2 linked regions of the Homo sapiens genome follow. The protein of the gene in region 1 binds, or shares a complex with, the protein of each later gene. Each region holds a gene or a part of one and is shown in the gene's direction. Other genes may lie near its edges. The genes, in order: TSEN15 and TSEN34.

What was found.
Region 2: the proteins of TSEN15 (region 1) and TSEN34 are in contact, whole or in part, in a crystal structure (PDB 6Z9U), measured with the Homo sapiens proteins. Residues at the interface, in NP_443197.1 of Homo sapiens: Leu70 (codon at 11,247), Lys74, Trp76, Thr108, Pro109, Ile110, Thr111, Ala112, Ser113, Leu114, Ser115, His116, Asn117, Ile119, Arg120, Leu123, Leu141, Ile143, Val151, Tyr152, Tyr153, Lys154, Leu155, Thr156, Asp157, Gly158, Phe159, Met160, Leu161, Pro162; in NP_001070914.1 of Homo sapiens: Pro251 (codon at 5,814), Leu252 (codon at 5,817), Arg253 (codon at 5,820), Phe254 (codon at 5,823), His255 (codon at 5,826), Ala256 (codon at 5,829), His257 (codon at 5,832), Tyr258 (codon at 5,835), Pro265 (codon at 5,856), Glu266 (codon at 5,859), Asp267 (codon at 5,862), Thr268 (codon at 5,865), Ile269 (codon at 5,868), Pro270 (codon at 5,871), Leu271 (codon at 5,874), Gln272 (codon at 5,877), Leu274 (codon at 5,883), Ser283 (codon at 5,910), Val284 (codon at 5,913), Arg285 (codon at 5,916), Lys286 (codon at 5,919), Thr287 (codon at 5,922), Leu289 (codon at 5,928), Leu290 (codon at 5,931), Cys291 (codon at 5,934), Ser292 (codon at 5,937), Gln294 (codon at 5,943), Val300 (codon at 5,961), Tyr301 (codon at 5,964), Thr302 (codon at 5,967).

The regions. Positions count from the first base shown.
Region 1 is NC_000001.11:184,043,180-184,058,292, forward strand, and holds the start of TSEN15 (tRNA-splicing endonuclease subunit Sen15), read left to right. Parts: upstream 1-8,550; 5' UTR 8,551-8,576; coding exon 8,577-8,711; intron 8,712-11,174; coding exon 11,175-11,256; intron 11,257-11,548; coding exon 11,549-11,684; intron 11,685-14,981; exon of another isoform or gene 14,982-15,061; intron 15,062-15,113. UniProt on the Homo sapiens protein: Non-catalytic subunit of the tRNA-splicing endonuclease complex, a complex responsible for identification and cleavage of the splice sites in pre-tRNA. It cleaves pre-tRNA at the 5' and 3' splice sites to release the intron.
Region 2 is NC_000019.10:54,187,367-54,202,448, forward strand, and holds TSEN34 (tRNA-splicing endonuclease subunit Sen34), read left to right. Parts: upstream 1-3,941; 5' UTR 3,942-3,998; coding exon 3,999-4,241; intron 4,242-4,354; coding exon 4,355-4,598; intron 4,599-4,749; coding exon 4,750-5,007; intron 5,008-5,808; coding exon 5,809-5,996; 3' UTR 5,997-6,255; coding exon of another isoform or gene 6,256-6,305; 3' UTR 6,306-7,166; downstream 7,167-15,082. Other genes in the region: membrane-bound acylglycerophosphatidylinositol O-acyltransferase MBOAT7, read right to left, coding at 851-980, 1,067-1,142; RPS9 (small ribosomal subunit protein uS4), read left to right, coding at 13,819-13,915, 14,121-14,243. UniProt on the Homo sapiens protein: Constitutes one of the two catalytic subunit of the tRNA-splicing endonuclease complex, a complex responsible for identification and cleavage of the splice sites in pre-tRNA. It cleaves pre-tRNA at the 5'- and 3'-splice sites to release the intron.

The DNA.
Region 1 (15,113 bases):
AAAAGTCAAGAAATAACATGCTGGCAAGGTTGTGGAGAAAAAAAAAACGCTTATACACTGTTGGTGGGAGTGTAAATTAGTTGAACCATTGTAGAAGACAGTGTGGCAATTCCTCAAAGTCCTAAAGACCATCGATCAGGTAATCCCATTACTGGTTATATACCCAAAGGAATATAAATCATTCTATCATAAAGACACATGCACGTGTATGTTCATTGCAGCACTACTCACAATAATGAAGACATGGAATCAACCTAAATGCCCATCAATGATAGACTGGGTAAACAAAATGTGGTGCATACACATCATAGAATACTATGCAGCCATAAAAAAGAATGAGATAATGTCTTTTACAGGGACATGGATGGAGCTGGATGCCATTATCCTTAAGCAAACCAATGCAGGAACAGAAAACCAAATACCACATGTTCTCACTTATAAGTGGGAACTAAATGATGAGAACACATGGACACATAGAGGGGAACAACACAAACTGGGGCGTATTGGAGCATGGAAGGTGGGAGGAGAGAGAGGATCAGGAAAAATAAGTAATGGGTACTAGGTTAAATACCTGGGTAATGAAATACTCTGTATCAAAAACCCCCATGAAACAAGTTTACCTATGTAACAAATCTGCACATGTACTGCTGAACTTAAAAGCTGAAAAAAATATAATTTGATTCGAAATATAAGAAAAGAAAAATGAGTAGCATGGACTAAGAAAAGGAAGACAGAAGGGGAAAGAGATGGGAATTCCAGGTAGATGGAACTGCAGGAGCAAGGAATGAAACAGTATGACACACTTGAGAGATACAATGAACAGGGCATGGCTGGGAGATAGGATGGGAAGTAGTAACAGAGAAAGCTAGAAAATTATACGGTTTTATACAATTTTATATATAATCATTTCTTTAAAATGGGCAAAGGACTTTGAATAAACATTTCTCCAAAGAAGATATACAAATGGCCATAAGCACATGAAAAGTTTCTCAACATCACTAATCCTTAGGAAATGCAATTCAAAACTATAAGATTTATCACTTCACACTCATTAGGATGGCTACTAGAAAAACACAGAAAATAACAAATGTTGGCAAGGGTGTAGAAAAATTGGAACATTGTGCACTGTTGGTGGGAATGTAAAATGGTACAGCTGCTGTGGAAAACAGTATGACAGTTCAAGAAATTAAAAATATAATTACCATATAATCTAACACTTCTACTTCTAGCTATATACCCAAACAAATTGAAAGCAAAGTCTCAAAGAGATATTTGTGCACCCATGTTCACAGTGGCATTATTCACAATAGCTAAAATATGGAAGCAAACCAGGTGCCTATTGATTAGTGAATGGAAAAGCAAAATGTGGTATATACATACAGTGGAATAGTATTCAGTCTCAAGAAGGGAGGAAATTCTGACATATGCTACAACATGTTAACTTTGAGGGCATTATGCTAAGTGAAATAAGCCAATTTTTAAAGGCAAATATTGTATGATTCAACTTATATAAGGTAGTTAGTCAAAATTACAGAGACAAAATAGAATGGTGGTTGCCAAGGGGATGGGGGTAGGGGAAATGGGGAGTTATTGTTTAATGGGTATATGTTTCAGTTTTAAAGATAAAAGAGTCATGGAGATGGATATGAGTAATAGTTGCACAACATTATGAATGTATTTAATACCACTTAAAATAGTAAATTTTTTGTTATATGTATTTTACCACAATAAGAAAATAAGAAAAAGTCAATCCATGTGATTTATTAACAAACTTGAAAAATCATATGATCATCTCAAGAAATGCAGAGAAAGCATTTATGAATCCAACATGAATTCCTCATAAAAATTCTCAGTATATAGGAATAGAAGGGAACTTCCTCAACGTAATAAACAGCATCTACAAAAAGCCCCCAGCTAACATCATCCTTAATGGTGAAAGACTGAGTGTTCCTCCTGTGATCAGAAACAAGATAAGAATGTCAGATCTCATTACGTCTGTTTAATGTTGTACTGGATGTTTTAGATGGGGAGGAGAAGAAGGAAGGAAAGAAGGAAGAAAGGACAGAGAGAGGGAGAAGGAGAGAGGAATAGAAGAAAGCAGGGAGGGACATTTAAGCAAGGTAAATAAGCCGTAAGATATATTTTAACATGAATGTGGAGTGTTGTATTAGCCCTTCTAGGCCAAAGGCTCTAAAATTCAATGATTTATTAAAGTCTATTTTACTATAGAACTTTAAAAAATGTTGAAAATGGGGGAAAAAAAGAAAAAAATCACTCATGATCCACTACTCCACCACAACCATTAACATTTTGGGGTAATTTTAATATGGCATTTTTAATTTGCACATTTTCAATGTGGGTTTGTACTCAGTCCTCTTCAGTGAGACTCAATATCCATGTTGATAGCAGATGTTGACTAAATATCTAGAGATAGACATGGGATATTTTTTGGACCATGGATTGCTTTTGATGTCTTTTCATATTTACAAAGCCAGGCATTATTTAAGGTTGCATATATGCATCTGTTTACTTATAGAAATTGCCTAACTTACTATCACTTTGTACTCTAGATATTAGAAAAATTTTAATAAAAATATTTAATAAACATGAAATATAAACTAACAGATATAATCCATAAACTAATACATTAATTTAAATACTACTAATAAAATGGATATCCATATACCCAGCACCCACCTTGAGAAACAGAACATGACCATTAACTCTGAAGCCCTGAGTCCCTTCTTGTCACAATGCTTTGTTCCATTCCCCAGAGATAAGTACTAGACTGAATTTTGTGTTAATCAGTCTCTTCATTTTGTTTAGAACTTTACCTCCTGTGATGGTTAATTTTACGGGTCAACTTCACTACACTAGGGTGCCCAGTTTCTTGGTCAAACCAGTCTAGATATTGCTGTGAGATATTTTTCAAATGTGATTAATATTTAAATCAGTAGACTTTGAGTAAAGCAGATTACGCTTCATAATGTGGGTTGCCATCCCATCTGTTGAAGGCCTTAAAAGAATGGGATTCTCCATGAAAAAAGGAATTCTGACTCTGGATTGCCCTTGGACTCAAGACTGCAAAATAAGCTCTTTCCTGGGTCTCCAACTTGCCAGCCTGCCTTCCACAGATTTCAGGTTTTCAAGCCCCCACAATCACATGAGCCAATTCCTTAAAATCAATCTCATTCTCTCTTTTTGGTTCTGTTCTCTGGAGAACTCTGGTACATCTCCTAAATGTGTGTTAGTTTTGCCTGCATTTGAATTTTTCTTCAAATACCATACAATTCACCTATTTAAAGTACACAATGCAAAGGTTTTTAGTGTATTCATAGTTATGCAACACGATCACAATCAATTTTAGTACATTTTTATCACCACAAAAAGAAACCTATACTCATTAGTGATCAATCCTTATGTCTCCCAGCTCGTGCTACTCTCTCACTAATCTACTTTCTGTCTCTATAGATTTACCTACTTTAGACATTACACATAAATGGAATTCTACAATATGTGACCCCTTGTGATTGGCTTCTTTCACTTACTATGTTTTCAAGGTCCATTGATGTTGTAGCATGAGTACTTTATTCCTTTTTAATGCTGAATAATATTCCACTGTATGAACATACTACTTTATATTTTCATCAGCTGAGGGACATTTGGGTTGTTTCCACTTCTGGGCTATTATAAATACAGCTGCTATATTAGAATTTTAAACAAATCAAATATCTTATATACGCTTCTATAACTAACATTTTGACTATACATTAGGTTTTTAGTTTTTATGAGATTCATTCAAGTTGTTGATTGAAACTCTATGTGTGTTTTAAATAATTACTTTTTGAAAACTGTACTCAACCCACTAACCACTAACATAACTAAAATAACTAGTGTATTTCACAACCACTAACAGGTCCTGGCACTTCATTTAAAAATATTGCTCTAGAATATATACCTGGGATTAGAATTGTTGGATCATAGGATTTGTGCATCTTCCCTTTGGTCTACTTTTCTGCCAACTCTTGGCTTTTGTTGCTAATCTGATAGGTGTATTATGGTATCTTCTTGCCTCAATTTACATTTTCTCACTCAATCAATGTTGCTGAACATCAAGTTATGTTTGCTGGCCTTTTATGTCTTTTTTTCTGTTTACTTTCTTTTTTTTAACCTAAGGAGTGTTTTGTTTTGTTTCCTAATTGATTTTTAGGAGTTCTGTATATATTCTGGGTATCTTTTCTTTCAATTGTGTGTTACAGATGTCATTTTCCTTCCACTCTCTTAGTGTTGGAAATTCTTAACTGAGATACAGTTAAATTTACCAAATTTTTTCCATATTGTCAGGCCTCTGAGCCCAAGCTAAGCCATCATATTCCCCGTGACCTGCACATATACATCCAGATGGCCTGAAATAACTAAAGAATCACAAAAGAAGTGAAGATGGCCTCTTCCTGCCTTAACTGATGACATTACCTTGTGAAATTCCTTCTCCTGGCTCATCCTGGCTCAAAAGCTCCCCCACTGAGCACCTTGTGACCCCCCCCTCCCCGACCCCTGCCCGCCAGAGAACAACCCCCTTTGACTGTAATTTTCCTTTACCTACCCAAATCCTATAAAACGGCTCCACCCCTATTTCCCTTCGCTGACTCTATTTTCAGACTCAGCCCACCTGCACCCAGGTGGAATAAACAGCCTTGTTGCTCACACAAAGCCTGTTTGGTGGTGTCTTCACAGGGACATGAGTGAAGCATATGGTTTGTGCTTTTTGTGTCTTAAGAAATCACTCTTAAACTTGGGGTCATAAAATATTCTTTTATATTTTCTCCTAGAGATTTAAAAGTGTTTGCCTATACCGTGTAGCCAATCACCCCTTCTCTCCTTCCCTTCTTGCATCTGCCCACATGTGTATGGGTCTGTTGCCTGGCTCCCTATTTTGCTTCATTGGTTTTACCTATCCATGTGCCAATATCACATACTTGTAATTAGAGATCTTTGTAAGAATTTAAATTTTGTTTAAAACCTTATCTTTATAAGATATTTATATTTCAGAACTTTAACTTCGTAAGTTCTCTCCCTTTTGTTCACAAAAAGGGTCTTGGTTATTTTTGGCCCTTTATGCCCACATTTCAGAATCAGTTTATCAGGTATTAAGAAAATACTTTTTGGGATTTTAATTGGAATTGATAGAATCTGTAAATAACTTTGGAGGAAATTGCCATCTTTACAATATTGAATCATTCTCTTTCTTGAATCTTTCTCTGTTCTTGAAACACAGAGAATAGGAAATTGTGTGTTTTGTGTACAAAAAAAGGAACAAGATATATGTGAACCTCCTTACAACCAATGAATGAAAAGCTGATCCAGAATGCTAGGCTACATTTTTCAGCTTGGAATCACTGTCTCATACAATACTGTGTAAAAGCTTTTCTTCTTCTTTTTTAAATTTTCTTTCCACACTAGAGATTCACATCACAATTTAGTGTTCGCATTTCCTCGAGACTCTTACTGAATTAATATGTCTCTGGCTAGACATTACAGATTTTTGTAGGAATAAAATGATCTGGCTCAGGATATCATTGGGAAATGAGTTCAGCAAGTGCCAGATTACAATGAATTTGATTAAATCCAATATACTCAGGGGGGATTTCATTCGTTGTTTCTTATCTAGCTTTTTTTTCTCACTACTTTGGTTCTCTAATAGAGTGAACTATTGAAGCATTTACAAAATGAGAAATCCTCCAGGATACCAGACACTGAAACTCTCCTCTGTTCTCTAGTGGATTTCACTCTAGATTGTCACAATAGGTATTTTGATTCTGTACTTTAAATACTGGGTTGTCTAAGTGTTCCCAAATCCTTTGTGTTCATTCTTAGCCATTCACAATCACCAAGACCTATTTAAAAATTTACATTAACAGGGAAGCTAACAGACACTCCCTTTTCATTCTTCAACTCTTTTGAAAAGCACGTAATACTCATTCTTGAATGTATCATGCTTTTTCTAAGCAACAGTATTTAATCTATTTGCCAAAGGATGGCATTTATCTGTTGCTTTTTTGGTTTATGGTTCTTTCCATACCCCCAATTATTTTTTCTTGAACATAAGCTGAAATTCTTCCCCTGCAGATGTTTGAGGCTGGTTCATATAGTCCCTAATCCCATTGGATATCCTTACTGATTTATAAAAGTTTCCCTCTACTCAGATTAGCATCAAAATACTCTTAATGCTTTTAAAAATGCCATCATATGAACTGATTTGGATCTTTAGGAGTCAGAGAGATTTATTCACTTCCAATCACTTGAATTCGTGTCAGTGTTTCATGCTTCAATGACCCAATTAATTTCAGTGCCATTTTCTTCTTTCGGGCTTAGCAGCTGCTTTGTGGTGGCAAAGGTTCATTCAAATGTAATGTATTTGAGGGCAACATATGAATCTTCATGTGTGGCTTTACATTTCATTCAATAATAGATGCCCTTCTTTTCCCTGTGTATGATGTGTTATTTCTTTTGATGCATTCAAGCTTTTCTCTTTATTTTTTTGACTTTCAATAGTTTTATTACAATGTAGACTTCTTTGTGTTTATTTTAGTTGCTATGTATTTAGCATTTTGTACTAGTAAATGTGTTTTTCATCAAATTTGGGGAAATTCTGGCCACCACTCTTTCTTCAAAAATTTTTTCTGTCCCTTTTTTTTTCTACTTCTGTTGTTTACATGCATGTTGGATTGTCTGACATGTAGCAAATCTCTGTTGGTCTACTCACTTTTTAAAGATAATTTTTCTCTTTGTTGTTTACTTTTAATAATTTCTATTGCTCTATCTTCAAGTTCCCTACTTTTTCTTTTGTAATTTTTTTTGGCTGTTAAATTCACCCAGTGAATTTTTTATTTCTAAAATTATAATTTTCAATTTTCAGAATTTCCATTTGGTTTTAAAAATCTTTTTTTTTCTTTTTCTTTGCTGAGATTTTCTATTTGTCTCCTGAGATTTTCATTCATTGAAAACATGTTTTACTTCATTGAGGATAGTTATAATAGTCACTTTAAAATCCTTATCTGTCAGTTTCAATATCTGATTCATCTCAGGGTTGATCTCTAGAGTATGCGATCCATTTCCTTGAATTTCATATGTCAGATAGTTTTGGATAGTACTCTGGACTTTGTGAGTGTTAAGTGGAGAGTCTGGATTCTATTATTCTTCTCTGATGAGTGTTATTTCCTTTGTATTAGTAGGTAATTTTCCCGGCTAGATTTTAACTGAAAACTCTCTCCCTTTTGGAGACAGCTCTGGTCTCAGTTCAGATCTTTTGTTTTTAACTGAGCTGCTGTGATTCTGTTTTGGGTGGTTCAGGATCTCTCAGAGATGTGGGTTGACAGTTTGGGGATCCACTCTCTGACTCCTTCCTTGGGATTTCTTAATCTCTTCAGAATTCAAAATTTTCTGTCTTCACTTTTCTGCTTCCCCAGACAAGAATAACTGATAAGTTTTATACATGCATCCCTGGTACTGCTGAGCCTGACTTCTGGACTGCACTTTGCCCCAAGCTAAATGCCAAAGAGAGGAGAATTTTCTTGTGGAGTTCTTGATCTTCAAGCAAGCTTGCCCTTCCTACCAGTCTGCTGTTCACATTCCAGTATATTCAGCTTTTTGTATTGTGTCCAAGTGTAGTTCCTGATCTTCAAGCAAGCTTGCCCTTCCTACCAGTCCACTATTCACATTCCAGTATATTCAGCTTTTTGCATTGTGTCCAAATTGTTTTCTGCTGGGGGATGGTCCACTAGGGTCTTAGTCTATCATGGTTGAAAACAGAAGTTATGTCCTGCCTGGGACTTTGGATTTTGAGTCACCCTTGTCCTGGTCAATGCGATAGCCTCCTAACCAGTCTCTGTTTGTGTCCTTGCTCCCTCCAGTCTATCCTCAACATATCAGTCAGAGTGATCCTATGAAAACGTCCAGGAGCCTCCAATAGCTTCCCATTTCACTCACAGTAAATTAAAAAATACTTAAAATGTGCTACTCTGCCTGTTTGAAACTCCTCATCCTTGGCTTCCAGATCACATGCTTATGCTAGTTTGTATCCTACCTTTCTGAACACTCGTTCAGCAACTCGTGTTTCCTCTAATCCTGAAACGTGGGTCCACCCTGAAAGTATGGTTCTACTTTAAAGTTCTATGTCAGGGCACTGAGTAAGGCCTTTCCCGTCCCCAGCAATCAGAAACCAGGACCCCACTGCTGAAGGCAAAGAGGACGTATGTATCCCCCAACTTTCTCAGAGAGTTATCGGCAGCACTGACTTAAAGAGGATTAAGAGCTTCAGGGCGCAGGCTACTCTTTAATATTTTTCACGTTAGAATTTGCTCAGATTTGAATAAACGCAGAGCGAAACTAGAGAGCGTTCGCGCAGGTTCTAGCTACCTTGGTCAGAAGGAGGGGCTGATGCAACTTTCCTCCCAGTTTCTGAGCCCTCTCGCACTGCAGCTGCGAGCCTCGGGGAAGCGGAACCCACAGGCGCGCGCGCCGCTGCTTCTGGCCGGGCGCGGGTCGTGGTGCACCACGGGAGCGCCGCACCGGCCGGCATGGAGGAGCGCGGCGATTCCGAGCCGACCCCCGGCTGCAGCGGCCTGGGTCCGGGCGGTGTTCGCGGCTTTGGCGACGGCGGTGGAGCTCCTTCGTGGGCCCCTGAGGACGCCTGGATGGGCACTCACCCTAAGGTCAGGAGGCGCGAGAGGAGCAGGGCGCCGTCCAGGCCCCTAACCCAGGCAGAACACTCCCAGGCAGCTCTCTTTCTTTCTTCCTCAGTGGGAGACTGAGGACGCGCGCCACCCTCACCGAGGGGGACCGGTGTGCACAACTGCCAGCCTCAGGCAGCATCGGTTTTGTTTGTTTAAACAAGTTGCACTATCTCAATCCCCCAGCCAAAGCCATTTTGGAACTGAGAGCCAGACAGTAACTCCGCCCCTCTCAAGCCGGAGATCCCTAATAAGCGCTCCACTAGTTTTGCTGTCTAGGTAAATCCCCTTTGGGGGATAAATTTATTTAATCCTCACGGTAACCATGCAAGACAATTTGTGGGCGATGGATAAGATCTAGGGGTCCATAGTGATAAAGATTTAAGCACAGTCACGTTTACACTTAGCCTTGGGCCCAGAATGCATCTTTATTTTGAAAAGGTGCAGATTCCTAATATTTCAGATTTCTTCGAAAGTTTGAATAGGTTCTTGCTCAAAGCAGAGCTACTCACATTTTGCGTGTATTTTTCTAGATTAGCAGCAGGCGAGATCAAGATAGTCCTCTGCTTACTTCTGCTTGAGACATTACTGCCTTGTACAAGTACGGTTCCAAGCAGTGAATAGACAGTGAATGGAGATGTGGGTTTTGTAAGAATCTCAAAAACTAGTCTCTACGGTACTTTAACAGAATTGCACTCTTCTGCTAGAGAGCAATAATTCATAATCATCTAAAAACAGCCAAGAAAAAATTTGAAGGTATAAGTTTGAAGAGTTAACCTTTTTCAGCTTCTCTTGCTTAATTTTATCTTCCTACTCTGTCCCCTTCATCCTCCCAAAAGGTGAGAAAAAGAAACAATAGCATGGAAATATTATTTAGTGCCCTTTTAGGGAAACAATAGCATGGAGAGGCAGCATATTGGTTAGGCGCATGAACTCAAAATCAGACTCAGTTTAAATCCTGATTCTGTCACTTATCAACCTTGTGATTTGGGACAAGTTGCTTGATCTTATTATGCCTTAGTTTCCTCACCTGAAAAATGGGGATATTAATAGTCCATACTTACTTATACGGTTGTTACAGGATTAAATTAATGAATATTTGTAAGCCATTCAACATACAGAAAGCACTATATAAGTACTTAATAAGCGAAACACCAGTAACAACTTTTTAAGACTTTATCTAGATTTGGTGGTGTTATTCAGTTTATATACTTGTAGATTGTTTTCTTTTTCAAGTTAATGGCTGTATACACCTTGACCATCAAATCTCCCCTTTTGATTTCTCTTCTTGAAGGATCAAATTAATTTTTAAAAGAAAAAGAACAAGTAATAAAATAATAGGGGGTATTTGTTTTTCCAATTTCACCTTTCTGTTAATTTAAAAATTATGTAGTTTCATCCAGTAAAATGGTACCAGATTTATTATCCCCAAACACACTTTTATTTTATTATTCTCCTGCTTAGAAATCCTCAGTGTTTCCATACTGATAAAATCACATGTTTAGCTTGACCACCAAAGCCTTGTAACCTGGCTCAAAATTATGTTTTGGGTGTTATTTTCAAAACATGTTTGAAGTCGACAACTAATTAACCCCTGTCCTCCTGAACCTGTACAGTTACAGTGAAGCTGATGGGAGAATGTGACTTTAGACCTGTCCCCATGCAGGTCTGCTAATAATTCAACTCAGCATTAGCCCTGCATATCCACCTAGTCGCTGGCATAGCTGGGCAGCCTCAGAATTCTCCTGCAGGTGTAGGCCCCTGAAAAGTATTCCCCTTATGCTGACCAGTAGTCTGAAAGAAGCAGCTTTCTCTAGTTCCTTGTCAATTCCTTTTAAAAAATCTACTCTTAAAGTGAGAAAGAGTGGGTAGAGAGGCTAGGACTGATACTCTAGCAGATTCTCTCCATATACAAATAAGAGGCTAGGGAAATACACAGTACCCACTAACATGTCCCATCACAAGTTTTATTAAAAAGGTTTCTCTATTGCTGGCAGATAGGTTTCTTTACAGGCCCTTGAATGTATGTGGCTTAATCCCACCTTTGTGTAATTACCTGCAGTATTACTCTACTTCTCCACTTACTTAAATCATAATGTTCTTCAGTGCTCAACTTGTATCCCATCCCACCTCTGCTATAAATCTTTCACCAGTCCCTCTGAGTAGAGCTCTTCTGACCTGCTGTGTCATGTTTTTTATTCCATTTACATGGTTTTTAATCACTTACAGTCATATATTGTTATTTGCCTAACAATTTTAAGTGTGCATGTATTTAACAATTGCAAGTTCTTTAGAGACAGAGATAAGATCTTATATTGCCTTTTAACTTCCACTATACCTAGAAGAATTTTATAGATTATATATGCTTGATGACCACTTGATGATTGGAAGAAAATATTAAATAATTTTTTCTTCTCAATTTGACAATTATATTTTAATTTTCAGTATCTAGAAATGATGGAATTAGATATAGGAGATGCCACCCAAGTTTATGTAGCGTTCTTGGTTTACCTGGACCTCATGGAAAGTAAGTTGTTTGTTTATATTGTTTTGTTATTGGGACTGTGGTAGAGATTTGGGGGGTTGGATTGGGATATAGCATTCTTAACATAATAAGCAATCTTTTATGCATTTGCTGTTAATTTTGCAATTTATTTATTTACATTGGGAATTACTGAGTAACAGAAGCTACTAGAAAAGCAAAGACAGGAGGTAGTGTTACGAGTGATATTTGCTCAGCTGAGTATTAGGTAGAAGTTTGGAGTTTTTATTTTTTGTATTTAATAAACATTATTGTCCATTCAATGATGCTCTTTCAGGCAAAAGCTGGCATGAAGTAAACTGTGTAGGATTACCAGAACTCCAGCTCATCTGCCTTGTTGGTACTGAGATAGAAGGGGAGGGGTTACAGACTGTGGTGCCTACCCCCATCACTGCTTCCCTCAGCCATAACAGGTGAGCAGGTGATTTTGGTCTAAGTTCCTTTCCCGAGTAAAGCAGTAGGAAACATTAAACATAGTGATGTAATACTTTTAATGAAATTTGGGATACAGGGTTCATAGCTTTACTCTTGGCTATTTGAGGAATAAGTTAAATATGAGTGTTGTATTCGGCCATTCTTGCATTGCTATAAAGAAATACCTGAGACTGAGTAATTTCTTAAAAAAAAAAGAAGAGGTTTAAGTGGCTCATAGTTCTGAAGGCTTTACAGTAAGCATGGTGCTGGCATCTACTCGGCTTCTAGGGAGGCCTCAGGAAGCTTATAATCATGGAGGAAGTTCGTGAAGCAAGAGCAGGCACATCATATGGCAAAAGCAGGAGTGAGAGAGAGTGTTGAGGGGGAGGTTCCACACACTTTTAAATGACCAGATCTCACGAGAACTCATTGTCCTGAAGACAGCACTCAGCCATGAAGGATTTACCCCTATAACCCAAACATCTCCCACCAGGCCCCACCTCCAACATTGGGGATTACAGTTCAACATGGGATTTGGGCAGGAACAAATATACAAAGTATATCAAGCATTCAACAAGTATTTATTTAGCACTTACTCTATGGTCAGTACTTTTTCAGAGACAGTATGTATGGTAGAAATATTTATATTCTTGGTAAGGAAGCAAGACCATTACATATGAAATAACAGCTGTTATAAGATGTACCATGTAATACAAATTATACTTTATATAGCAGTTGGTGAAAAGCATGATTAACATGCAAGCTGAAATCAAATTTTCATGTAGCTTTTTTTAAAAGCTTTAAAAAAGAGACTTTTTTTAGGACCTTTTTTTAAAAAGCTTAGGTACACAGCATTGGATTAAACATGTCTTTGTTTCATGACATACTCTCATTATTAGTTCATGCTTGGTTTTTATTTATTTACTTAGTTATTTTTAATAATGTAATAAGTATCTCTGTACCCATCACCCAAAGCAAAACTAGATTCTTGATAATAACTAACATCTAATCTTATAAGTCCCTTCCTTAACGTGCTTTCACTGACCTGAGGTAACTCATTCTGAATTCCATGTACATTGGGAATTTTTAAATTTTAGATGTTTTTAACTTTAATTAAAAAATCTTATCTTTTAAGGCTGACCTTATACACTTAATATTATATTACTAAAATTCATCCATTCTTGTGCATTTTTTGAGCTGCCACATAACATTCCATTGTGTGATTATACCACCATTTTTACATCCACTCCCTCGATGATGGAGTGTTGCTAATGTTTAACTTTAGGAGATAATTTCAAACTATTTTCAAAGTGGTTGCCTCAATTTACTTTTCACCTGCAGTGTAAATAAGATCCTTTGGAGCTGTATTGTCTCTCACATTTAGTATTGTCAGACTTTTAAATTTTTGCCAATGGAATGGATTATTCTTATTTTGGTCTTAATTTACATTTCCCTTATTACTCATAATACTGAATATTTCTTTATATATGTATTATTTATAAGAAATATCTGTTCATATCTTTTGCCTGTTGGGTTGTTTTTAGTTTTCTCATTGACTTGTATGAATTCTTTATATATTCTTGACCTAATAGTTTTTTTATTGTGTTTTCCAGTTTTTAAGTCTGTCTTTCACTGTCTTAAGATGTCTTTCAATGAGTAACAGTTCTTAATTTGAATATAATCATATTTATCCATCTTTTATAATCAACGTCTTTGTGTCTAGTTTAAGAAATATTTTCTATCTAACGGTCTAAAAAATACTTATATTTTCACTAAGAGTTCTATTGTTCTTGTTTTTAATGGTGTGAGAGGCGGTTAGGGATACCATTGTCATGTGGATAACCACTTTTTCTACCTCCATTTACTGAATAGTCCCTCCTTTCCTCACTATCTGACATATCACTTCTGCTACTTTCCAAAGTTCCAAACATGCATTAATTTGTTTCTGGGTTCTCTATTATATTCCATTAGCCAGTTTATCTGTCCTTTTGCCAATACCATATCTCTTAATCGCTTGCTTGGTAAGAAGTCTTGGTATCTGGTTAGCAAGCCTCCCTTATGCATTTCTTCTTTAGAAGCTGTAGCAGGCAGCTTCTAAGATGGCTTCTCCTAATTCTGGTATTCACTCCCTTATGTAACTCTCTTCCCTTGAGTGTGACCTGGACTCAGTGACTTCTTTCTAATGAATAAAATTTGGCAAAAATGATAGGAATGTAACTTCTAAGATTAGGTTACAAAAGACTGTGGCTTCTATCTTGGGCACTCTCTCTTGCTTACTATAAAGGAAGCCAGCTGCCACGTGAGCTGTCCTACAGAAAGTCTGAAAATAGAAAAGAGATGACAATTATTGATGGAGCAAGATTCTTGAGAGATGAGGAAGGATGGATTCAAGAGGATAGTGGAGGAGAGTAATATTGAGCATGTAAAGGGGTGCTGTAAACCTCTGAGAGTGGGGTATGGGAAGAATGAACAAATGAAAACACAGCTCTATTTGGGTGGCATATAAGTAGGGAAAAGAGCAGAGCCTCTTAAATTCCAGCATGAATACCGTTGATGAATACTTAACATTTTTTCTAGCTGACTATGACTGAATACATAGCAGTCTAGTAGAAAGAGCCCCAGACTATAAAGTCTTAAGACCTGGGTTCTAGTCTTGGGACTGACACTTAACATTTTGTTTGATGTTTAGCAACACACCTAATTTCTCTGGGTTTCAGTTTCCTCGTCTTATTTTGTTGTTGAGGGATTTAGATTACCAGTACATGCAAGATCCCTTCTAAATTAAAGCTGCTGTAACTGGTTATTTTCATTGTGCATATTTCATAAAGCCATATTAAACTAAATTTGCAGATTTCTATGAAGTATTTTTTGTATTTATTATTCATAATGAGAATTGTTTTTTAATATGTCAGTCTATTCATATGCTTCTTTGAGAAGCTCCTTACTGTTTTCTCTGTGTTTGAGAATTACAAATAGTTGTTAGCATTGACATCAGATTTAATCGCTAGTACTTTCCGGTTTTTACTAGCATGATTTCCAAGCCATCCTATATCCAAGAGTCTTAATTCATTCCTCAGAACTCATTACTTCTGTCTTTTAATTACTGTAACAAATATTGTCCTAGCTAGTATTAATGTTATATTATTTGTTTGGACAAGGAGCTACTATTTGAAATTAACCTGCATTTATTCCTAAAAAATAAAATTAATGAAAGCAATAGCCTATTTTAATCAAAATCATTTCATAAGTCTAGAAGTACAAATTTGTTTCCATTGTTAATTTCTAGTATTTTCCAGGTGGTAATTAATGCTTTTCTAGCTTGAATGGCTAAAGCTTGTTTTCTTCTTCAAGTAGAATTAGTTGGAATGATAACTTGGTAAGCCATTTTGATGCTGTTGCATTTAATAACTGAGAGAGCTTAAATCTTT
Region 2 (15,082 bases), on another chromosome or scaffold:
ATCCTCCCCCAGCTCTCCCCATTCGTTTAGAGACAGAAACACAGAAGGGCAGAGAGGACAGGAGGGTGGATGTAGGGACCGAATGAGTATGATTGAAACAGTGGGAGAAGAGGCTCAGCCACATAGAAACACACACCAACAGAGAATGAGGTTAAGAGAAGCTTCGGGTGAAGACCCTGCAATCCTCCACTTTTTCTTTATTTCCGAGGTCCAGGGCTCAAGAAGAGAGAGGTGGATATGAATGAATATGAACGGTGGCCAGGCCAGCAGACACACTGTCCACCTCTCTCCATGACATGGATGTAGCGGACTGGGACAAACACACAGGGACCAGACGCAGAAGGCAGGGGAGAAAGAAAAGCAGATGAAGGCCGGATGCGGTGGCTCACGCCTGTAATCCCAGCACTTTGGAAGGCTGAGGTGGGCAGATCACAAGGTCAGGAGTTCGAGATCAGCCTGACCAACATGGAGAAACCCCAGCTCTATTAAAAATTCAAGATTAGCCAGGCATGGTGGAGCATGCCTGTAATCCCAGCTACTTGGGAGGCTGAGGCAAGAGAATCGCTTGAACCCGGGAGGTGGAGGTTGCAGTGAGCCAAGATCGTGCCACTGAACTGCAGCCTGGGCAACAGGAGCGAAACTCCATCTCAGAAAGAAAGAAAGAAAGAAAGAAAGAAAGAAAGAAAGAAAGAAAGAAAGAAAGACAAACAAACAAACATGAAACAGAGAAATGAGCTGATCAACAAGAGACAGCTAGACATGAGGCAGAAGCTGAAAAAGACTCAAAGAGGAAACAGGTTGCTTCCCCCTCTCCCCTCCTCTCCCTCTCCTCCCTCCACCAAATTCTCACCAGGGCTGGGCCTGAATGAGGGCCCAGGTCCCGAGGATGGTGACCAGAGAATGCAAAGTGTGGGGGCCACAGGTGAACAGGGTGAGCCCCAGGCCCACAGCGGCTGCTCCCCATCTCTTCAGCCCAGGACCTGCAGGGGGAAGGGACAGCATAAGCCTGGAACCTTCCAGAGGGTCCCCCCCCTTTATTTTCCACTGGGGAGGGAGCCTGACTCACCGGCTTTCTTAAAGAGGAAGCCGATGGGGATGGAGATAAGAAGAACCACTAGATACGTCCATTCTTCAGGCGACATGGTCTGGGGGAGGGGCAGAGATTCACAGTGAGAACCCAGGAATCCAGGCCCCCTGCCTCCTCCCTCTTCGAGGATCCAGGAACCCAGCCTTCTAGACCCCAGTTTTTGAGGATGATGGAGTATGAGCCTCAGCTCCTCTCCTTTGAGAACCTAGCAACCCAGACTCCAGCCCCTTCCTCCTTGGAGGAGACAGGAATCCACCCCCAGCCCCTCCTTTGAGCGCACAGGCCTCCAGCTCTCCTGTCCTTGGAGAACCCAGGAAAGTGTGGGGATCTCCCAGCACCCAAGCCCCTCCTTTGCGAACGCAGAAATCAAAGCTACTCCCCGCACCCATACTGGGGACCCAGATTTGAAGACGCCCCTCTTTTAAAAACCCAGAAACGGCACCCCTCCCGGACCCTTCCTCTTCGACAGCCCAGGAATCTAGACCTCCGAGCCCCCTCTTCCAGCGAGGATCCAGGAACCCAGACCCCCTCTTTGGATCCCCCATCCCCCGGCCCTTGTGAAACCAGATATCCGGACCCCCCAGCCCTTCTCCTTCGAGACCACCCAGAGGAGCCCGGGTCTCCAACCTGCACCTCCTTCGGAGCTCCACACCCCTCTCCTACTGAGAACCCGGGGATCGAACACCCTCCCCTCCCCAGGCCCAGGCCCAGGCCCAGCCCCAACCCGTCCCGCGCACCCCAGCGCATCCCCGGCAGAGCCACAGGCGGTTGCGCCAGCCCCGAGTTCCAACGCGCCTCCGGGGCCGCCCCGCACCCGCCAGCCCGCAGAGACCCTGCCGCCGTGTAACCTCGCCTCGCCACTGGGCGCCGCCACCCTGGCCCACCTGAGCTGCTCGCCGGGCAGGAGGCGGCCGAGCAGTCCCAGCCCGCTTGCCGCCGCAGCTCCGGCCACGCCTCCCCCGCCCAGCGCGCCCCCGCGCCGCCTGCTCCTTCTGGGCGCCCGCCGGGCTGCGCAGATCAGGCCGGGGAAGAAGCCACGGTCAGGGCCCCGGGCGGGCAGGGAAGAAGCCCCGGAGCAGAAGCCGAGAGCGCGAGTCGGCAACGGGATTCGAGTCCAGGTCCACACTGGGATCCGAGCTCCGAGTACGTGAAGGGGCGGGCCTTCGGGCTCGGAACAAGGAGGAGCCAAAAGCTTTGGACCCGAAGGGGAACAGACGGGCTCTGGAAAGGAGGCGGGGTCTGGAGCTCGGCGTGAGGAATGAGGCGGGGTCTCCCTTCGGGTTCCTTCGGGCACAATCGGGAGCTTGAGTTCTCCGGAAGCGGGGCCACAAACTTCGGCTCACTTCGGCAATAGTCGAGAACGGAGAGCTGAGGCCACTGTGGGCGGAGCCACATGTTTCGGCTTTCTTCGGAGGTAGTCGAGTCCTTAGGGTCACTGTTCCGATGTGGGCGGGGCCACAGACTCGGCCGGATGTGGGTGGGGCCACAAGCTTCGGTTTACTTCGTAGATAGTTGGGTACAAGTGACGCTAGGATGATAGGCGGAGTCAACAGGTTCGCCAGACACCCATGAGTATTTACAAGGGGGCGGGGCGAAAGCGACTTGCCCTCAAAGGGGCGGAACCCCGAGGGCCGGCGTGCGCCTACGGGACCGGGCCAGGATGACGATCCTCAAGTTCCCAAGTAGAGGAGAGGAAGCGGCAGAGGGAGGTGCGCTCAGTGGGGCGGAGCCAAGGTGGCCCCCGCGGGAGGAGGGCGGGGCTTCGGTCCTGCGAGGGGCGGGACCTGACTTCCCGCGGCGCTGATGGGGCGGGATGACGAAGTTGACGAGGGTGTCGGCATGAGGGGGTGGAGCAAGGAGCGCGTGGCGCGGTGCGCAGTGGGTGGCTCCACCTCGACTGCGAATTACTGTTTATGAGGTGACTCGCTGGTTCTATCGGTGGACAGTGGGACATTCTGAAGGGAGGCAAGGAGGCGGACTGAGCGCTCCCAATTGGGGTGAGCCCGCCCGAGCGGAGAGTGGACGGCGGGTGTCCAGGGGGCGGGGCTTTCGGCTGTGGGGTTCGGTCGTAGGGCGGGAACTCCCCAACTGGGGTGCGCTGGCGCTCGGAGGGGGCGGGGCCACAGGCCGCGAGGCTGCCGGGAGCCGATGACGCCCGAACGCCGAACCTATTGCGTCCGGGAGGAGGCGGGGCTACGGATTCGGCCGAGCCGAGAACACCCGAACGTCAAATTGCTGGCGTTCGAGAAGGGGGCGGGGCTGCGGATTCGGTGGAGCCGAGGACGCCCGAACGCCGAACTTCCTGTGCTCGGGAGGGGGCAGGGTTTTGTACTGTGGGAGTCTGAGAGCGAGGAGGTCCGAAAGCCGAATCACAGTCGTTCGGAAAGAGGAGGAGCGAAGGCTCGAGCGTCCGGAAGAGGGTGTGGCCTCGGCGGTGCCTTAGCCTCCAGAGCTTCTGACCGCTGACGGGAACACCCGAAGGGGGACGCCCACTTTGCAAGAGGGTGGTGCCAAAATGGACCTTTGTAAGGGGGCGTGTCGCCGCGCTTGCGGAGGTTTGTTTTTCACGCTCCAAGGCGCAATGGTAGGTACGGCAGTGCGGGCACAGAGCGGGTGCCGACCGCAGGGTCACAAGGGTAGAGCGGGACCCTGGGGGCTTGGCGAGGGGAGAGGGTCGGGGGCTTGTCTCCGGCGTCTCGTCTCCGGCGGCCGCGAGGCCTGGTGGGATCGCCCGGGGGCGGGGCCTGGCGCTCGGGCCCAGCAGGTGGTGAACGGCGGCTGAGCGAGGCCCCGCCCCCTGAGGCCTAGGGGCGGGGCTTCGCCGAGACCCCGGAGGCTTTGGGTGCGCTGCAGCGGTCCGCGGCGCGCAGCTGTTTCGGTAACTGCTTTGCCTCCCGGCTCCCGCAGGAGGATGCTGGTGGTGGAGGTGGCGAACGGCCGCTCCCTGGTGTGGGGAGCCGAGGCGGTGCAGGCCCTCCGGGAGCGCCTGGGTGTGGGGGGCCGCACGGTAGGCGCCCTGCCCCGCGGGCCCCGCCAGAACTCGCGCCTGGGCCTCCCGCTGCTGCTGATGCCCGAAGAGGCGCGGCTCTTGGCCGAGATCGGCGCCGTGACTCTGGTCAGCGCCCCGCGTCCAGACTCTCGGCACCACAGCCTGGTAAGGGGGCGGGGCTCGAACTCGGGTTCGGTGGGAGCGGGACCTGGGAGTCAAGTTTCCTGGCTTCTGAAGGGACCATAAGCTTGGAGGTTCCAGCGAAGTGTGCTTCTCAGGCCCTGACATCCTTCAAGCGCCAGCAAGAGGAGAGCTTCCAGGAGCAGAGCGCCTTGGCAGCTGAGGCCCGGGAGACCCGTCGTCAGGAGCTCCTGGAGAAGATTACGGAGGGCCAGGCTGCTAAGAAGCAGAAACTAGAACAGGCTTCAGGGGCCAGCTCAAGCCAGGAGGCCGGCTCGAGCCAGGCTGCCAAAGAGGATGAGACCAGTGATGGCCAGGCTTCGGGAGAGCAGGAGGAAGCTGGTGAGCATGGGAGGTGGAGTCCAGGGACCACGGGAAGGAGAGGAGAGATCTTTTAGGAATTTTAGCTGGGAATCCAGTGCCTGGGTCTCCCTGAGGGTGAGAAGACTTTACCCCTTGAATTTACCAAACTCTTCTCTGTACTCCCCACCAGGCCCCTCGTCTTCCCAAGCAGGACCCTCAAATGGGGTAGCCCCCTTGCCCAGATCTGCTCTCCTTGTCCAGCTGGCCACTGCCAGGCCTCGACCGGTCAAGGCCAGGCCCCTGGACTGGCGTGTCCAGTCTAAAGACTGGCCCCACGCCGGCCGCCCTGCCCACGAGCTGCGCTACAGTATCTACAGAGACCTGTGGGAGCGAGGCTTCTTCCTCAGTGCGGCTGGCAAGTTCGGAGGTGACTTCCTGGTCTATCCTGGTGAGTATGGGTTGGGGCCTCTGGTTGCTGTGCCTTTCCATACGATCCCAATGTATTCTGCGTTTTTCTTTTTTTTTTTTTTTGTCTTAATAGAGGTGGGGTCTCTTGTTGCTTAGGCTGGTCCCTATTCCTGGGCTCAAGCAATCCTTCCACCTCGGCCCCCCAAAGTGCTGGAATTATAGGCCCAGCTGCATTTTTCTTTTTTGTCTCACTTTCTCTTAGCCTCTGAAATTCATAGACAGACAGGAAACATTTGGGAGCTCCCGAACTCATTGGGCAAGCAGTTTAACGACTTTTATTAAATGATTACTGTGATCCAGAAGATTCACTTAGAAGTAGTTAGACATCAGGCTGGGCGCAATGGCTCACGCCTGTAATCCCAACACTTTGGGAGGCCAAGACAGGTGGATCACCTGAGGTCAGGAGTTTGATACCAGTCTGGCCAACATGGTGAAACCCCATCTCTACTAAAAATACTAAAACTAACTGGGCGTGGTGGTGGGTGCCTGTATTTCCAGCTACTCGGGAGGCTGAAGCAGGAGAATCATGTGAACCCAGGGGGCAGAGGTTGTAGTGAGCCAAGATCGTGCCATTGCACTCCAGCCTGGGGGACAAGAGCGAGACTTTGTCTCAAAAAAAAAAAAAAAGCCTAGAAGTGGAATAGTTGTGTCCAAGAGCATCTGTTTTAGAGTATCTATAGTGATGGCTGAAATGATCTCAGATCTCCTCCCAGTGGTCGTTCCCGTGGCGTCCAGCCGTCTGCCATTGGTCACTGCTTCAGTGCCTCTCTCCTTCCCCCAGGTGACCCCCTCCGCTTCCACGCCCATTATATCGCTCAGTGCTGGGCCCCTGAGGACACCATCCCACTCCAAGACCTGGTTGCTGCTGGGCGCCTTGGAACCAGCGTCAGAAAGACCCTGCTCCTCTGTTCTCCGCAGCCTGATGGTAAGGTGGTCTACACCTCCCTGCAATGGGCCAGCCTGCAGTGAACTCCAGAGACCTAGGGGATGTGGCTGTGTCGGCAGCAAGAGCCTTTCTGGATGTTCCCCAGCTCTTCTCTGGGAGTCTAGAACATCCTCCTACCTTTCTCCGCGGTTAGTTTTTGATTCCAGGTTTTCGAACACTACATCTTTTTTATGTTCTTCCTTGTTTCAAAGCACTTATTGGCTGTGTTTTTGTAGTTACCTATTTTCACACTGTGAGCTTCCCGAGAATGGGGCCTGGGTTTGATTCATCTGTTTTCTACAGGGTTTAAGTCTCAGGAGGTCTCAATAAACTTGGTATATAAATGTTCATGATTTGAATGTTTGCGACAGTCCTGGAACCCGTGGATGGTCTCATCTGCATGTACAGGTGAGAAAAAGGCCTGGAGGAGGGGGACTGACTTGCCCAAAGTCACACACTTAGTAAATAGCAGGCCTGGCCTTTCAAAATTGGTTTTTCTGACTCCTAAATCTGCACTCTTTCTACCTCACTAAACTTCCTTTTGAAAAGATTTCTATGAAATTTCCCAGATGCATACAAACGTTATAAATAAAAATATAGGCTGGGCACGATGACCCACACCTGTAATCCCACAGAACTTTTGGAGGCCAAGGCAGGGGGATCGCTTGAGCCCAGGAGTTTGAGACCAGCTCTGGCAACATTGTAATACCCAGTCTCTACAAAAAATAATTTAAAAAAAAATTAGCCAGGGATCCCTTGAGCCTGGGAAGTTGAGGCTGCTGTGAGCTGTGATTGCACCACTGCCCTCCAGCCTGGGAGACAGAGCAAGAACCTGTCTCAAAAAATATATATATGTGTGTGTGTATATATGTAAATATACACACATGTATGTATATATATGTGTGTGTATATATATATATATTATGAAAGGAAATGAGTATTGTAATTTTAGGAGTTCAGAGCCTGGGGAGAAAGGAAGGACTCTGGAAGGCGTTCTGCTTTTTCATGGCCTGGGTAGTGGTGAATTTTTTTGATACTGTATATTTATATTTTAGACTCTTTTTTGGATGTGTTATATTCTGCAATTTTTATAAAAGCTAAAACACATGTATTTGTAAAAAATTTGCACTTATGAAATCATTTACCCATGTTTTTGCTTAAGAAAGTACTAGAACACTACCACTATTCCAATAATTACACCTTTATCTTATCAATGTGCAGTTTTATTTTGTCACGTTTATTTTGTCAGTGTAATACATTCACATGGTGAGTCTGGGCGTGGTGGCTTATGCTTGTAATCCCAGCACTTTGGGAGACCAAGGCGGGCGGATCATGAGGTCAGGAGTTCCAGAGCATCCTGGCCAACATGGCCCGCCTCTATGAAAAATACAAAAATTAGCCGGGCGTGGTGGCGGGCGCCTGTAATCCTAGCTACTCCGGAGGCTGAGGCAGGAGAATCACTTGAATCTGGGAGGTGGAGGTTGCAGTGAGCCAAGGTCACGCCACTGCACTCCAGTCTGGGCGACAGAGCTAGACACTGTCTCAAAAAAACAAAAACAAACAAAAACTTCCACATGGTAAAATTCTGGGGCTGAAAGTCTCCACCTCTAGTTCTTCCATTTCTTCCCCCCATGTTTCATTCTTTCTCTTTTTTGTGTGAATTGAGCAGCCTCTGGAACCAGAATAGGTTTAGAGAGACTCCCATCTCCCCTCTTTCTTGCCATTCCCAGTAAACAGACTTCATAGAATCTCAATTTCCTGTAAGTTTAGATTAATTTAAAATATGACACTGGGCCAGGTGTGGTGGCTCACACCTGTAATCCCAGCACTTTGGGAGGCTGAGGTGGGCAGATGAGTTTGAGATCAGCCTGGCCAATATGGTGAAACCCCATCTCTACTAAAAATACAAAAAAAAAAATTAGCCGGGCGTGGTGGCATGCGCCTGTACTCCTAGCTACTCAGGAGCCTAAGGCAGGAGAATCACTTGAATCCGGGAGGCAGAGGTTGCAGTGAGCCAAGATCGCACTACTACACTCCAGCCTGGGCAACAAGAGCTAAACTCCATCTCAAAAAAATGAAAAGAAAAAAAATGACGCTAACCCCTGTCTGGCCAATACTCTCTTTGTGCCTGCTTCATAATTGGCTTTGTAAGTCTATTCTCCACCCTTTCTCCTCTCTACAACAAAGTACTTAGAAGTCTCATTCCCTCTGTCATGAGTCTCTCCTCTGAAAAGTTCCTCATTTAAAACTCCTGTGGCCAGATGTGGTGGCTCAGACCTGTAATCCTAGCACTTTGGGAGGCCAAGGTGGGAAGATCAGTTGAGCCGCTGAGCTCAGGAGTTTGAGACCAGCCTTGGCTGAACATAGTGAGACCTCATCTCATCTCTATTTAAAACAAACAAACAAAAAAAAACTTTTGTGACTGGTGTCCCCCCATGTTGTCAGTCAACAAATTCTATAGGTGCCATGTTCAAAGCACTGTGGATCCACAGTTAGGCCCCACCCTCCACCTTCACTGCCAGTATCTTAGAAAAACCAAACCATGGCTCATTTGATATTGATAGCTTCCTAACTCATCCCCTGCCTTCCATTCTTGCCCCTCTGTTGTCTGTTTTCAACAGAGCAGCCAGAATCATCGTTTTTTTTTTGTTTTTTTGTTTTTTTTTTTTTTTGAGGCGGAGTCTCGCTGTCGCCCAGGCTGGAGTGCAGTGGCGCGATCTCTGCTCACTGCAAGCTCCGCCTCCCAGGTTCACGCCATTCTCCTGCCTCAGCCTCCCTAGTAGCCGGGACTACAGGCGCCCGCCACCTCACCTGGCTAATTTTTTGTATTTTTAGTAGAGACGGGGTTTCACCATGTTAGCCAGGATGGTCTCGATCTCCTGACCTTGTGATCCACCCGCCTCGGCCTCCCAAAGTGCTGGGGTTACAGGCGTGAGCCACCGCGCCCGGCCAGAATCATCATATTAAAAGATAAGTCAGACCATGTCACAGCTCTGTCTAAAACTTTCCTGGAGTTTTCCATCTCAGAGTAAAACTCAAAGGTCCTACTTTGCAGCTTCCTCATGAACTGGCCATGTGCATTCTCTTCCTTGCTTATTATTATTATTATTATTTATTTTTTTTATTTTTGAGACAGAGTCTTGCTCTGTTGCCCAGGCTGGAGTGCAGTGGCACAATCTCGGCCCACTGCAGCCTCTGCCTCCTGGGTTCAAGTGGGTTCAAGCGATTCTCCCACCTCAGCCTCCCAAGTACCTGGGATTACAGGCGCCTGCCACCACGTCAGGCTAATTTTTTGTATTTTAGTAGAGACAGGGTTTCACCATAATTGCCCAGGCTCGAACTCCTGAGCTCAGGCAATCCGCCCACCTCAGCCTCCCAAAGTGCTAGGATTATAGACATGAGCCACCGTGCCCGGCCAGCTTTGTTCCTCTTTACTGCTGGATATTCCATTGTATGGACATAACCCCATTTTATTTATCCATTCATCAGGTGATTGGCATTTGTTTCTAGTTAAGGACAAGGTTTTGGTTTTGGTTTTTCTTTTATTTACCCTTGTTCATGCAGTATCCCCAGGTCCAAGAACAGTTCCTGGCACACAGCAGTCAATACATTGTTGCTAAATAAATGAGTGGCTTAAACTATAATTTTTAAATCAGGGCTGAGACAATTTGGAAATTATAATTTCTCCTACATGACTTTCTAAGCATATTTTAAATAAATATACATACGTTAAGGTCATTTTTATTAATGAAAATTGTAGCATACTATGCACACTTCTGCATCTTGCTTATTGGATATGCCCAGGCTTGTCTCATTTTTGCCAACAGCTACATGGTTTTGCGTCCTATGGATGGGGCATAATTAGATTTTATTACACTTGTACAAAAGGAAAGGAATTCAGCTCCCCAAGCATGCCCAGCTGGTCCTTGGCAACCCATGATGGAAACCAAGGGTTCCTCTTATATTACCCGTGCTCCTTTCAGAGAGGAAGGGCTAGAGGGCTCCAGCCTGAGTGAGAGAGAGAGAGGAGGAAGCATGAGGGGTTTGTGGAAGAGGGCCTGGTGCCATATGACTGGACCATGCTTCTGAAGAGGATCAGGGTGAGGCCAGATCTCATCAGTTGACCCTTGAGCAACATGGGTCTGAACTGCTCGGGTCCACTTTTATGCAGATTGAAAAAAGTAAAGGTTACACAGAGCATGCCTGCCTCTCCTGCTTTGCCTTTTACCTCCTCCACCTCTGGCACCCTGAGACAGCAAGACCAAACCCTCCTCTTCTTTCTGCACCTCTGCCTACTCAGAATGAAGACAAGGATGAAGACCTTTATGATGATCCACTTCCACTTAATGAATAGTAAATATATTTTCTCTTTTTTAGAATTTTCTTAATATTTTCTTTTTTTTTTTTTTTGAGACGAAGTCTCGCTCTGTCACCCAAGCTGGAGTGCAGTGGCGCGATCTTAGCTCACTGCAAGCTCCGCCTCCCGGGTTCACGCCATTCTCCTGCCTCAGCCTCCCCGGTAGCTGGGACTACAGGTGCCTGCCACCACGCCCGGCTAATTTTTTGTATTTTTAGTAGAGATGGGGTTTCACCGTGTTAGCCAGGATGGTCTCGATCTCCTGACCTGGTGATCCGCCCGCCTTAGCCTCCCAAAGTGCTGGGGTAACAGGCATGAGCCATCACGCCCGGCCAATATTTTCTTTTCTCTAGCTTAATTCATCATAGGAATACAGAATATAATACATATAGCATATAAAATATGTGTTAATTGACTATGTTATTGGTAAGGCTTCCAGTCAACTACGAGTAATGTTTTTTTTAAATCCTGAGACAGTGTCTTGCTCTGCCAGCTGGGCTGGGGTGCAGGGGCATGATCTTAGTTCGCTGCTGCCTCAACCTCCTTGACTCAAGCAGTCCTCCCACCACAGCCTCCCAAGTAGCTGGAACTACGGGCACACACCACCACACCCAGTTAATTTTTCTGTTTTCTGTAGAGTCTGGGTTTTGCCGTGTTGCCCAGGCTGGTCTTGAACTCCTGGGCTCAAGTGCTCTGCCCACCTCAGCTTCCCAAATCCCACCTGGGGTTACAGGTGTGAGCCACGGTGCCTGGCCTAGTAGTTAAGTTTTGGGGAAGTCAAAAGTTATATGCAGATTTTCTTTCTTGATTTTTTTTTTTTTTTTTGAGGCAGTCTTGCTCTGTCGCCCAGGATGGAGTGCAGTGGTGCGATCTCGGCTCACTGCAATCTCCACGTCCTGGGTTCAAGTGATGCTCTTGCCTCAACCTCCTAAGTAGCTGGGATTACAGGCACCTGCCACCACGCCTGCCTAATTTTTGTATTTTTAGTAGAGACCAGGTTTTGTCATGTTGGCCAGGCTGGTCTCGAACTCCTGACCTCAGTTGATCCGCCGGCCTTGGCCTTCCACATAGTGCTGGGATTACAGGCGTGAGGCACCGCGCCCAGCCTATATGGAGGTTTTCGGCTGAGCTGGGGGTCAGTGCCCCTCGCCCCCAGACTGTACAGAGTCAGCTGTGTTAAGATATTAAGCACCTTCAGTACACAAGACTCTGTGCTGGTTTTCTTTTCTTTTTTTTTTTTTTTTACTCTAAATCATCAAACCCTATGAGGAAAGTCCTGTTACTTTCTCCCATTTAGCACTCTTGAAGAGGCTAATTTGCCTAAGATCAAGAGCTCGTCAGTGACTGCTGAGGTTCAAACGCAGATCTTTTTTAAGACTTGAGAACCTACAGGTTCAACCACCATTATAAAACCATCTCTGTAATCACGAGGCACCCGGAATTTGTGGAGCTTGGACTTCATCCTGAAGGGAGTGAAAACTTATGGAAGTTTTTTCCTTCCACGTTTCCCCCTTCCAGATGAATAATATACGCGTGTTCAAGATACAAAAATGCATAAAATTTGGCCAGGCATGGTGGCTTACACCTGTAATCCCAGCACTTGGGGAGGCTGAGGCGAGTGGATCACTTGAGCCCAGGAGTTCAAGACCAGCCTGGGCAATATGGCAAAACCCCGTCTCAAAACAACAAAACAAACAAACAAAAAACCCATAAAACTGAACAAGGTAGTTTGTAAGATATGGAAGTACAATGCAGATGACAATAATGACGATGGTAGCTACCACTAGGCGCTTTATTTATGCCACTCTCCTCAACACTGGATAGACTCTCACTTAATCCTCACAAGCTTATGAGGTAGGCGCTACCATCATTCGCCGTTTTACAGAGGAGGACGCTGAGGCACAGAGTGATTGAGAAACTTGTCGAAGGCACTGCAGCTGGCAAGTGGTGACGTGGCATTTGAATCCAGGCATCCGGATGGTGTGGATGCCGTGGAAGAGAAAGGGGCGGGTGGGACTGCTTCCTGAGGAGATAGTGACTGCCGAGGCAGCAGCGTAGGGAAGACAACTGAAGAACACGAGCTGTGGAGACAGACCATCGCATTCGGAGTGGAGAGATGGGTGTACAGACAGACAATAACCAGACTATATATAAAAAGAGAACTCTAGGTCAGGCGCGGTGGCTCACACCTGTAATCTTAGCACTTTGGGAGGCTGAGGCGGGTGGATCACTTGAGGTCAGGCGTTGGAGACCAGGAGTTCAAAACCCCGTCTCTACTAAAAATTTAAAAATTAGCCGGGCATGGTGGTGGGCGCCTGTAGTCCCAGCTTCTCGGGAGGCTGAGGCACGAGAATCGATTGAACCCGGGAAGCGGAGGTTGCAGTGAGCCGAGATCGCACCACTGCACTCCAGCCTGGGTGACGAGAGCGAAAAACTCCGTCTCAAAAATAAAATAAATTACTGATAATAGTACTAATACCCCTTAAGTGGCTATTGATAATAATAGTACCATGGGTGGGGGGGCAACTTCTCTGAGAGTGCTCTGTAAGTATGTATTGAAGATTGAGTAAATACATTTAAAATTCTTAGAACAGTATGTGGCACATAGCGTTCCAGAATGCCACATTATTGTTAGTGACAGAAATAATCTCGGCTGGGCGCGGTGGCTCACGCCTGTAATCCCAGCACTTTGGGGGGGCCACGGCGGGAGGCTCTCTCGAGGCCGGGAGTTCAAGACCAGCCTGGGCAACATGGCAAGACGCCGACTGTTAAAAAAAAAAAATGCTACCCGGGCGTCGTGGCGTGTGCCTGTAATCCCAGCTACTGGGGAGGAGGTGGGAGGATCGCTCGAGCCCGAGAGGTTGGTCGGGGCCTCAGTGAGCCGAAATCACGCCACTGCACTCCAGCCTGGGCGACGGAGCGAGACCCTGTCTCAGAAAGAAAAAGAAAAACCACCGTCCAGGGGCGGAGAAGGAAGGTTCTCCCTACTTCTCAGGTTTCCACTCCCTGGCCGGAAAAAACCTAGTCCTCCCAGGTTAGCACGCCGCTCTAGCCCAGCCTCACGTCTCCACTGCTTCTCAGCCAGCCAACGCCTCTTCTGATTGGCTCTGACGTGCGTGGTGCGTGAAAACGTCACGAGACGCCGGCGTTACTATAAGAGCGCAGCCGTGGCGCTTCCGCGCCTCTTTCTCAGTGACCGGGTGGTTTGCTTAGGTGAGGTGCGGTGGTGTGCTTTTTCTCTAGGGTTTGGGTTGGATGGTGGCCCGGGCCTTCCGAGTTTCCATGAGTAAGCTAAAGACGTTAGGAAACAGAGCAGGGTGGTTGAACGGGAGTGCAGCACGGTTGTGGGGGCAGATACTGACTATGAGAGCGTTGGAGGTTATTCTCGCGAGATCGGATCTGGGCTCCGCGAGGTTTTGGCGTAGTTGTGGGACTGCGCAGGCGCCGTTTGGATCCCTTACGCTCACACTTCTCTCCCGCGCAGGCGCAGACGGGGAAGCGGAGCCAACATGCCAGTGGCCCGGAGCTGGGTTTGTCGCAAAACTTATGTGACCCCGCGGAGACCCTTCGAGAAATCTCGTCTCGACCAAGAGCTGAAGCTGATCGGTGAGTGGCCAAGGCTTCCGGGAAGTGGTTCGGCTTCCGGGAGGCGGTTAGCACGTGGATGAAGGTGCCCATGTACTCTATCTAGTCCGTCCCCTAAATTTGGTACTATTCGTGGTTTAGGAAGGTTTTGTGATTCCAAAGCTGCCAGTCTAGTTGTTGTGCCAGTACGTGGGACTACACTTGTCCACCCCCTTCTCCCCACCAGGCGAGTATGGGCTCCGGAACAAACGTGAGGTCTGGAGGGTCAAATTTACCCTGGCCAAGATCCGCAAGGCCGCCCGGGAACTGCTGACGCTTGATGAGAAGGACCCACGGCGTCTGTTCGAAGGTGCGTATGGGAGTCCACAGCAGAGGGATGGGGTGCAGGGCTTGTGAGGTTCATTCTCCCTTCTGTTGCCTCTGTTCCAGTGATGAGAGTTGTGTCATTGGATAAATGGAACCAGCCTTCTAACTTTTAGTGGCACTTGTGGAGTAGGAAAAGTGTATCTGGATCAGTCTTTGCCCTGTTTCTTAGGTGTGTGGCTTTTTTGCCCAGTTATTGGACCTTCAGTTTAGTAATGACCAGAGCTAAAGATAGGCCTGGCACACCTGGGCACCCGTCTATATCTTTATATTCTGTTTATGTGGCCTGTTTGCTAGTGGATGAGAGTAGACTATGAAGTGGAATTTCTGGGCTAAGTGATGGTGATAACAGGGTTTGCACATTTGCTTGGTTTATTGTTTTTTTAATTAAGTTTTCTCGTTTTATTTAGTCTTTTGAGACGGAGTCTTGCTCTGTTGCCCAGGCTGGAGTGCCGTGGCGCCATTTCGGCTTACTGCAACCCCCGCCTCCTGGGTTCAAACAATTCTCCTATCTTAGCCTCCCAAGTAGCTGGGACTACAGACAGGCGCACGCCACCACACCTGGCTAATTTTACTTTTGAGACGGAGTCTCGCTCCATTGCCCATGCTGGAGTGTAGTTGTCGCAATCTTGGCTCACTGCAAACTCCGCCTCCAGAGTTCAAGCGATTCTCCTGTCTTAGCCTCCTAAGTAGCTGGAATCACAGGCATGGGCCACCAAGCCTGGCTAATTTTCTATTATTAGTGGAGATGGGTTTTCACCATGTTGTCCAGGCTGGTGCTTGTTTTTTTAAGCTGGTCAAGGACATTTAGGTGGTATTTAGCAA